Linked DNA regions of Homo sapiens: region 2 is linked to region 1. Evidence: fine-mapped expression QTL. A gene starts in region 1. The other region holds a variant in brackets. All regions are shown on one strand. Distances are between the middles of the regions.

Region 1 (5,376 bases):
TCTCATGACACTGAAACTGAATCTAAAAAAGGGTAAATGACATAGCCAAGGTTATAAAACTCATATATAATCAACCTGAGATTTGTACCCAGCACCTCTCTGGCTTTATTCATTTAATAAATATTGACTGTGCCTGGAACTCTGCACATTTCACAACATCAGGATTAGTAGTAGACAATCACAGAGAGGCTGAAAAGGTCAATTCAATTTAAAATGAAAGCAAAATCCTTCAAAAGCATAACTGGTAATGTAAAGGCTGAATCTCAGCCCATATTCCTCTTGCAGGCCCTCAGAACTGTCCTCAGGTCCCTAGAGCTGGACAGACTCTTTATGGTCATTTTCCAAAGCCCCCTTCTACAGTGTGGAGGTCCAGAATCAGAAGAGCAACGTGCCTGGCCACCACTGCAGAGACAGGCTAGAAGCCAGCCCCTTGTGGCCCATGCAGTGCGCCCCAGGTGGGCGCCCTTCCCTTCCTGGAAGCACTAACAACTCTCTACACCTGGGGCTACATAGCCACTGCTGGGATTACTCAGCTTTCTGCCCCAGCTGCTGCCTTTGTCACCATTAAGACCTCCACCAAAGGCAGAGTAGGGGAAAGGTTTTAAAAAAATAAAGTCATTCATTGTAGAAGTCTCCTTCTCTCAGGCCTTCCACAATACTTCTCCCTAGACCTTGGAGAAGAGGCAACTGCAACTAGAGGCTCTATCTACTGACAGAGCTCTTCCTGCTAGGGGTGGAGGGGAGGTGGCTACAGATCCAAGGAAAATTCCATTTTCTTTCTTGGTTGGTGACACTGACCATTCAAGACTCCTAATCCTGCCCTGTTTTCTAATTCTGGTAAAGTTTCCTAGTGTCACCAGTAAGAGAAACCGCTTTGTTTCATAAGTGGATTCTTGAAGGTTGATGCTTTTACCAGAACTAGAAGGGATCAGGGTAAAGTATAGGGTAGTAAAAGGGAAGAAAGGGTGACAAAAGCAATCTGGGAAGTATGGAGCCCAGAGAGACTCAGAGGACTAGGCCATGAGAGAACAGGGAGAAGAGAAAGTACTAAAAGCCAAAGTGCAGCCTCAGAGTTCTAAGAAGATGGGGATTATCTGCACCATAGACTAGGAAACCTGGCTTTCTTGCTGTACAGTCTCTTAACTGGTTGCCTTGTGAAAAATCCTCAAATCGTTCTGCCTTTTCTGGTGAAATGGGAGTAGACAAGGATTTATAAAATGCTCTATTATAGGCAGGTCGAAGGTGTTTTAACAATCCATAGAATGAATGGCCTCTGAGTCTGTAAAGGCATATTTTTTAAAAAAATACAGTAGCCAAATGTTTTCCTGTAAATGAAAAAACCAAAACCCCGAGAGAAACAAATTAACTTGAAGGTGTTTTCCAAGCCTAAAAGTAACCAAAGCCCCATAGGTTTGCTGAAGGAGACCGTCAAAACTCTAAACTGGTTTAGGTGAAATCCTCTCCAGGCATAGGTATCTCAGTGGAGGTCAGTTTCAGGCTGAGCTTTTTATGAAATCCGCCTAGAAAAGTAAGAGATGAAATGGAGCAAGGGAACTGGAACTTCCACAACTTTCTTTGCAGTGGAAGGTGACTCTCTTGACTTCTAGTATGGATTCCTTCCAGTCCCGTCCTCTTCCCCTTACAATACTCAATTTAATGTACTGAACTCCTCCTTCTGAATCTAGTGCAAAGTACAGTGGTGGACCCTCAGGGGATACCTGGATGGGGAGAGGCAGGGCGTGCATACAGGGCCAAGAATCCTTCGTTCCTGGGATTATAAGCACGGGAAGTCCAGCATCGCAAGCTTCCTGCCGCTACTGGGTATGGTGGTGCAAGGCACAGTCCCATCAGTGTCGATGTGAATGGAGTTGTGAAGTGCACAACTTGTCCAGCCCCTACGCCGAGGCCAGGCCTTTGTTCATGCAGTTGCCTAGTTCTGGTCCTTTGGCTACAAACTCAAAGCTGCCTGGCCAAGAGCCCTTTCACTCACTGTCCCTCTTTCTTCAACTTCTGTTATCCAAGACCCTCTATAGAATCATAGTGAGGGGGAGAGGAGTGCAGCTTCCCATACGGAAGGCGATATGTTTCCCTGACCCACGGATCTGGAAACTTCCGTGGGGCAGGGGCAACCGAGGGGTGCCACCTCTGCGGGCTCCCTGCAAGCTCCTCGGCCGTTCTGGGCAGGGCCGGGAGGGGCCACCAGGTGGCGCAGCCGGAGCCCAGCGCCCCAGCAGGTGCGGGCAGCGCGGAAAGTCCGCGAGTGGGAGTCCCGATGCCGGGCGTGGAGATGTGGGGGAGGAAGTCGGCGGGCGGGCGCCGGCTCCGCGAAGAGCTTCGGCCCTAGCAGATCTCACCGGACGAGCTCTGGCCTCGCGGCCGCCCCTCTACCACCCCTCAGCCCCAGCTCCCTCCCCGAAACCCCGGGCGCAGCGCGCCGGGCGTTCTGGACACGTCCGCCCGTCGCGCTGGTGTCCCGGGACTCCGGCCGACCCCGGCCCCCCTCCGCCCTCAACTTCCCTCGGGGTGTTGGGGCGACGGGCAGGGGCCTCTTTCCCAAGAAAGGACACAGGCGCTCCCGAGGGCCACGGCCGCCTCTACTCACCGCGGAGCCTCTCTCGCCTTGCCCAGGGTGCCCATGGCCGCGGCCCGCGCTCCCGGTGCCGGCTCACCTAGCGCGGCCGGGCGCGGCGCATCGCCCCCGCCACCACCGCCGCCGCCTGCCGGCTCTCTCCCCCCCGGGCCTCGTAGCCCCGGCGCCCGCCAGCCCTCGAGCCCGGCGAGCCCGACCGAGGTGCACCGCAGGCACAAACTTTGTGCGAGCGCGCCCCCTCTGCCTCGCGCGCGCGCTCACACCCGCCTGGCAACCACCTGACACGCTGATGCTGGCGGCTGCAGGAAACGTGCGGCGCCCCGCCGCTCTTCCCCGAAACCTGCCCCCTTTCCGCGGGTGCCCCGGCCTGCGCCTCGCGCGGTTCTCTCACCCCTGCCCGCCTTCGACCTCTCTTGGCCAAAGGGTTAAGTCTCAGGGGAGTTGGAGAGGAGCGGGCTCCCGGCTACCACGCCCGCGCCTTGCAGGGCACCTGTGCCCGTCGACCTCCACCTCAGCTCGGGAAACGGGCTGCGCCTAGCGGCTCCCATGGGACCCCCTTTCCCGCAGCCGACCCGCAGCTTCCACGCCTCTTCCTGCGGCCGCTGCTCGGAGCACTGCAGTGAGGACGCCTTCTCCCCTCCAGGGCCTCTCCTGTATATATCAGAGCGCGGAGTCCGGCAGGGGAAAGGAACGGAAAGACAGTTGTGAAGTTGCCTTAACCTGTGCCCTGGGGTCTCTAGGTAGCCGTCTGCAGGACTGGGCCGTAGACATGTGCCCTGTGCCCTGCGCCCTGCACCTTGGACGAGGGCTGCCTGTGTGGAGGTGCGCTCCACAGGCGTGATCCATATCTGGCCCAGACGCGGCCGCCTGGCGTCGGTGGGTGTAGGAGATGTGGGGACAACTTTCATACAACGTCAGTGCGCACAGAAGACCTGGCCAAGAGGGGCGGCCCATCCGCTGCTTGTCCAGGTGATAGTGCTGATAATCTCAATAGCTAATGATTGAGTGCGGTTGTGCTAAGTGCTTTCTATACATTACCTCATTTAATCCACTCTCCCTGATACAAAGAGATCACTGTTGTAAAGATGAGAAAATGAAGGTTTAGAGAATGCTATGCCTTAGATCATACAACTAATAAACAGCAGAGAGACCTCTGACTTGGACTGAGGTCTGTCTGACTCCCTGTAATCACTGCTGGACTGCCCTAATAACACACTCATTATCACGGCCACAGACCATAACTCTAGCCACAGTCATAGTTGTCTTCCTGGCCATAGTGTTCTGGACTTTAAAGCCTTCCTCTGTTTCATTTATATATTTCCTTATATTTATATGCTACCTTGTCCTTAAAACAGAATTCGAGATAGCTTACAAGAGCACATAACCTACAAAAAGAAGTGTGTGAAATGAAAAATGAGGCACACAAGATGGAGCCAAAAATGAACATCATTTGAAATAAATGCATCTCATAGAGTCAAATACCCTTGCTACAGGTGGGACCAAAATTTGTCTCCTGCATTTCTAGCAGTCAAGTTTAAAGAGAGGCCTTGTCTAAAGTTCAATTCCTATCACATGCAAGACCAAAAACAAAATTGCTCAAGAGAAGATCCCCCTTTCTTGATACTGAGACCAGCAAGAAATTTCTCCAGAGAATCCTCATGAACACTGGGTGATATAAAGAACCAAGTCCTCAGTCACAGCCACAGATGCAGAAGGGGCAGGTGAATGTCAGGAGAATATTAAATGATGACACTCTTTCTCACTCACTGGGTCTAAGGCTCAAACATTTTTAGAGTTATCTATTATACACCCTTCCTCATGTAAGCCCTACAACCTAAACAACCAAGTTGGCGGATGTCTGAGGATGGTAAAGATTTGTATCTATATATGAATCTATCTGACTATCTCCCAACAGTCCTAAGTTTGCAGTCTTAGACTTTGTTCACAGAGATCTTCTCTTATTACCAGGTGAACAATTACTTTTCACTGACCCCTCTACTACAGAATGAGCTCTTTACCCTACTTAAATCTATAATATTTACACTTTCAATTGCCACATAATATTCTGTGTCCCTGTCTTACCTCCACAGCTAAACTGTAAATTGTCCGAGGTCAAGAATCAGGTCTTATGCTTCTTTAGCTTCCACAGCTGCCAACTTGAGGCAGTACCTGTGGGACATTACTAATGAACTGCTGTGGATTTGATTTTGAAAAGCAAAATGTGCTGACCTCAAAGAAGAAAATAAGATCCTTCCTGATTATTTCCGGAGAAAGGGTTTCAGTTTTTCTTTGAAGTCCGCTGTCTATGGCAGGAGTGATAAGCTTACTGGCACTGTCCCCGGTGGCTTTCGTGGGATCCCCATCACAGGTTATCCGAGGCCTTCGGTATTTCTCTATTGCTTCACCCTTGAAAATAGAGCCCCTTCCATGCCATTCATTGCACTGAGTCTTTGGACAGCAAAATCTTTGTGTGTGGCAGGGGAATAATCCAGCCTTATACTGCATATGCATAGGTATGTATGCCAAATGGATGCCTTTATGTAAATGCATCATTATATTTATATGTAAATATACATATATGCATAATACTAAGTGCACATGTAGGCAGTTACACACATCTGCACACCTACAGTCCACATATATACAAATGGTTGAAACCAAGGTTATTAATTCATTCAATACATGAGTCTTGCTGAGTTTTCTAAAGAAAGAGGCCTACATATGCCCAGCGAGTGTTTTTCTCTTGGACTTTCTGAGTACTCTGCACTTCACTTGCATCTGATTCT
Region 2 (5,376 bases), 120 kb after region 1:
TCCAACATGAGCTGTGGAGGATTGGGGTCAAGAAGCATGGGGTTAGTGATGATTCTATGATGGCTGTCCTCCACATACTTACCCAGGGATTCAGTCTAGCAGAGGCTCTGCCACCCATCATGTTACCAGCTACCACAGCAAAGGAAGAGACAAGCATAGAGAAATTATACTCACTTTTCTCTACCTTGGCTCTAAGGGGTCACATATGATTTTCACTCACATCTCATTGGCCTCAATGGTCACAAGGCCTTGCCTAACTGCAAGGTGGCTGGAGAATGCAGGGAGGGCCATAGAACATGTGTGAACCTTGCTGTCTCTGCCCGCTCCCAGGATTAGCCTCTGGACACTTCCTCTCAGCATTGTCATTCAAATATTTATAATATTTTGTTTAAGGTCTGCCTTCCTGCTTGACTCAGAGAGAGAGGTTGGGACCCTGTCTTTTTTGTTCACTACTGGATTCTTAATGCCTAGCAAGGTGTCTGGCACATAGTATACCAACAGAGTTGTGACTTCTGGTGCCATCCAGTGGCAGCACACACATATTACAGGAGCAGACACTTTTAAATGATGTAGAGACTAAGGACCAGGATTTCAATTATTTCTGGAAGATGCAAGTGGGAGTGTGGGGAAGTGAAACAGAGTGTTAGAAAATAAAAGATTTTCCAACATTTTGGTAGACAAGTGCTCCAGAGTGAGATTCTCTTGGGGTCATAGCACAGCTTTCCTATCAGTTCTGGCCCACCTCAGTTTCTCTCTTCTCAGGTTTGGCTGGTGAAAGAGCTACTGGAGTAGCCCGGGTTTCCAGAGTTGTCAGGACACAAAATGAGTTAAAATGACACACCAAAGAAAATTCAAGAATCTACCCATAGCTGCTAAATCAGTTGCAAAACAAATCAATTCAGTGGTCTACCTCCACTCTGGCCTGCCCACCTCCAGGGAACAGAACACAAATAAAGCCAGTGACTTTTTTTTTTTTTTCTTCAAGTATATCACTTTTTCCAGACCCGTGTTCAAATGGCTTTTGTTAAAGCTGAAAACATTCAAGGTAAAGAACCATGTTAAGGAGGCTTCTAAAAAATTATCCGGCCCCAAACCTTGAGATTTCCGAGAAGTGCCAGGGCCATCTCTGGCTGCCGACTGCTGTGTCAGATGAAAGATAATGACCCCGGGGCAGATGAAGGGTTTTAAAGAGTAAAGCTTAATCGAAGGTAATAGTGGAAGACAGGAAAAATTGCAGAATGGTAATGGAAAGAGTGCATTAGTGAGGTTTCTGCACTGTCACCCTTTACCCAGGGACTCTGGGCTCTTCCATGTAAGTGGCCCCTTGCTCTCTGGAATCCATTATCTCCCCAGGATGCCTATGATGTGCTTAGTGAGATGGAAACAGTGGTGCCTGACTGCTGGCTCTGGGCAAGAGAACCTAAGGAAAACAACATTTCCCAGAAAATAAGAAACAAAACACAACTGAGTTAAACAATGAAGAAAGCAAGCTTTTGATGACAAACTTTTGGCTGAGAAGTTGTGCTTTGTTTATGAGGAACTGATGAACTGGTTGAGGAAATGGTTTTGGTTTGTTTGGTGGTGAACAAAGATGTAGAAATACACCCATCTTGCAAATACCATTTCTAGGAATAAGAAAGAAAAAAAATTTGGAAGTTCACTGAAATGACAGACTTTTTGGGATCAGGGAGGACAATCTTGAATTTTTAATTAATAATAACTAACATGTATTGGGCACTTGGTAGGTGACAGACACCAGGCTAAGTGTTTTTATGAGGCTTCTCCTTCAATTCTCATGGGTACTATGTGTATGGTCTTAGAAAACAATACCCCGAAATGAAGGCCTCAAAAGCAACAGTTTCTCTCTGACTTTGTCCTTCCCTCCTGTCTCTGACCTCTCATTCTCTCCCAAGGCTAACCATAGAAACTAGAATCCCTTTTCCTCAAAGTGGGTAATAGAAGCCAGAACCCTTTTCCTCCAAGCCAGCCATAACCTAAAAATATTACTTTAACTTTCCTACTGTCTTTCTGTGTAAAAACTGGCCATGAAGAAATTATCTGACCTGCCTTGTTTGACTGTAGGTCATCAGACCCCCATCCTAGAGAGGGTCCTGCCCCACACCCAGTAGGAAGAAACACTGCACAAGACACCCAGAAGAATTGAAATGGACAGTGCTGGGATTCCCCAGTCAGTAAGTGTTAGATCAGACCCTTTCTGTCCATACTTTGTTGAACATAAGCATAAAATAGACAGTTCCCCCTGTATCTTTGGGCCTTCATGCTGAAAGTTCCGGTGTCATGTAAAACTATGATCAAATACATGTGTCTGCCTTGTCTCCTATTAATCAGCTTTTGTCAGCAATTTCCAGCGAAACATCAGAAGGTGATGGGGAAGTCTTCCCTTGGCCCCAATATCTGTTAGGTAGATGTTCCTATGACCACCATTTTAGAGGAGAAATGGGCTTAGGGAAGTTCTACAGCTTGCCCAAGGTCATGTAGCTGGGGGCCTGGGACCAGGACTCCTCCCCAGGCCACTGTCTCCAGGGTCCTGGTTGAGTCCCCTCTTCCTATTTTCTTCATTGCTTAGTCAGCAATATATTTGAACTATATTAAAATATATTTATTGTGCCGTGCTGGAGGCTGGGGACATAGCAGTGTATGAAGAAGGGGCCCTCTGTCCTCAGAAGTCATATACTTGGCTAGCCGAGGTTTTATGTGACTGGTTCTTCTGGCCCATGGTTGCCACTCCTTCCATCCTCCTCCCTCCCTGCAAACAATTTTTCTTGGC[C/T]CCACCTAACATCAAAACTCTGAGCTCAAAGGAGCCCAGAGAACAGCTAGAGGCCCCTAAGCCACCCTTTCCTGTGATGAGGTTCTAAGAATTCTTCAAAGGATTTACCCAACATGATAGGGTGACAAAGTCTGCCGAGGATCTCAAACCAGATTGAGGTGTATTTTCTTCAATGAGATGCTTTAAACTTGTTGAAACGCAGTCACTCAGTTTGCTGAAGTTTAATTATTTTTTTGCTCTGACCTAGAGAGGGAAAGTACAACAGGCAGTTCAGAGGCTCATAGGATGGCAAAGTCAGCTGGGCTCTGAATTTTCTTTCTTGCTTTGTAAATAAATATTTCCACCTACAAACACAAAAGACACTGAGAGTGGCGGGCATTTGTCGGCTAAATTGTGGAAGAGACGGCACATAAGTAATGCAGCTCAAGTAGGCCCTGAATGTGGCAAGGGTGGGAGTAACTAGGGCTTGGAGCTCTTCCTGTGTTTTAGTACGGGAGCAAGTGTACGCCGATTGGCAGCTTTCTTGGACAGAGTTCAGGACCAGGATTTGGAAGACCGGGTCACAAGGTTTTTGCTTTGTGACTAATAATCCACAATCCTTTGCACATCATTTAACTTCTCTGCCTTGGTTTCCTTCTTCACATAAGTGGGATAATAGTGCTGTTATCCTTCCTTATGGGTTTTGCTAATTAACTAAATCAATTAAATTATTTTGATATACCCTGGCCAAAGGTTTTAGTGATAAGTAGAACAAATCATATCAAAACACTGCTTTAAAAAGCTCTGGCTGAAGGATAAAGAGCCATGTTTTACCAGGCATGGTGGGAAACCACTCAAAACCCCTGTAATTGGTATCAAGATTACTTTTGCCATTACTTTTAATGTCAAAAACCACAATGACTTTTGTACCAACATAATATTTTGAAGACAAAACATTTAAGCTAAAGAAGATGCAGAAAGAAATTACTATCTGAACTTCTCTAAAAGCTGTAAAGCAGAACCTCTCAGAAAATACAGCTGTCAGTAGCCCTCCCTTGAGGTCTTCCCTGTGAATTCAGCTGCCAGGGAGATAGACTGCCCATTCTATTCACATCAAAAAGCCTGATAGAACCTTCTATACCTTCTCACTGAAGCCCTGACACTCCTCCCCAGTCCCCTAGCTAAGTTTGGTATATAAACCCTTTATCTCTGTCTATTGGGATGAGTTACTCCTCACTGAATCTCTCCGTTGCAGGTGTAAATAAACTCTTTTTTTTTTTTTGTCTTGCTCATCTGTCTTTTGTCAGTTCAATTTGCAGACCCCACAGGCTGAACGTGAGAGAGGAGAGGAAAAGTTTTTTCCTCCCCTACAACATACAAATTCCTTTACTACCCAACTGCTGCTCACCAAGTGCCCTATACTCCACCGTACACATTCATCTAGAGCTCTTAATCAAACACATGTGTTCATACTTCTGTCTGAGCTGTTTCCTTTGCCTGAGATGCCCTAATCTTCTTTGTTTGCTCTGGAGCCAGACATTGGGTTTATACCTCCCTTTCCCCACCATGACTTGTTCCCTTGAAAGCTGAATGAACTCACTCAAGTTACTTAGCTTATCTGAGCTTCTCTTCCCTCATTTCTAAGTTGGGAATAATAATAATTCCTAGTGGCACAGCTGGAGTTCTGGGAGGGGAAGAACCGGGAGCCCACCTGTTATCCCAGACATGATGGTTGTGAAGAATGAGAGGACATTCAAGGAAGCAGTGGGAAAGCTGGTTCTGTTCAACCTCCGTTTGAAACATTAGCAGTCAGAGCGAGAGATAATAGAGCAAAAGGTCAAAAGACAGTGCCTTTTTTAATGTGGTCACTCTCCTTGATAGCAGAGCCTGCCAATGCTTCTGATGTAATTGCCACACCAGCTGATACGAGGATTTAAGGAAAGGGAGTTCACGCAGCACTTGGCCCAGGTCTTGATACACAGAGCTCAGTAAGCGTTAGTTATGACTATTTTTTTTTTTATTAACTTACTCTTTTACCAGTGTTCCCATGTGCTTTATGCATAACTTACCACGGCACTTAGTTGCTTGGGAAGTTGTGTAGCCTCTTTGCACTGCAGTGTCCTCATCTGTGAGATGGGAATGCTAGCAGCACTGCTGTCTGGGGGTATCGTGAAGATGACTTGAGATGATGCATAAAGCCCTCTCAACAGGAAGCACCCAGAAGGCATCAGCCATTACAGTTGCTTGGTGGGAGGGAGCTGAGCAACACCATAAGCACAGCTGGGCCTAATGCATGTTAGGTAATTCCAAGTACATTTGGGAAGGACAAATATGTCAAGACCTACTCTAGTGAGGATCAGGAGAACTGCAGCTAGTGCTGTGGGGTGTCCACTGTGGGGAGGTGGGCACAGTTGTATGGGTGCCCTAAGCTGTAGGTCTTCTGTGCCTTACTTACCTCCTGGGTTTGACTGGAAGACTTTTAGAGAAAACACTGAAACCACCTTTGCAAAAAATTATAACAGTAAGAAAATTAAGACAGTGAAAGAGATCTGACTTGCCTGCCTCCATCTTGCACGTAACCTCCAAGCTGTCCTTGTTCATTCCTGGGC

The links.
Region 2: its variant is fine-mapped to the expression of RASGRP1 in whole blood (TOPMed, PIP 0.94).

Annotation. Positions count from the first base shown.
Region 1 is chr15:38,561,992-38,567,367 of GRCh38, forward strand. RASGRP1 (RAS guanyl releasing protein 1) reads right to left here and starts at 2,823. Exons shown (of 17, transcript NM_005739.4): 1 at 2,603-2,823. The coding sequence starts at 2,637. RefSeq lists enhancers at 215-344, 405-504, 2,887-3,398, 3,240-3,429 and silencers at 2,120-2,319, 2,330-2,549, 2,580-2,819, 2,980-3,029.
Region 2 is chr15:38,683,300-38,688,675 of GRCh38, forward strand. The region is part of intron 1 of LOC105370775 (a long non-coding RNA gene); the gene reads left to right. Among named protein-coding and RNA genes, the nearest start is that of LINC02694, 11 kb to the right of the region's middle. The variant C/T (reference allele first, on the strand shown) is at 2,789.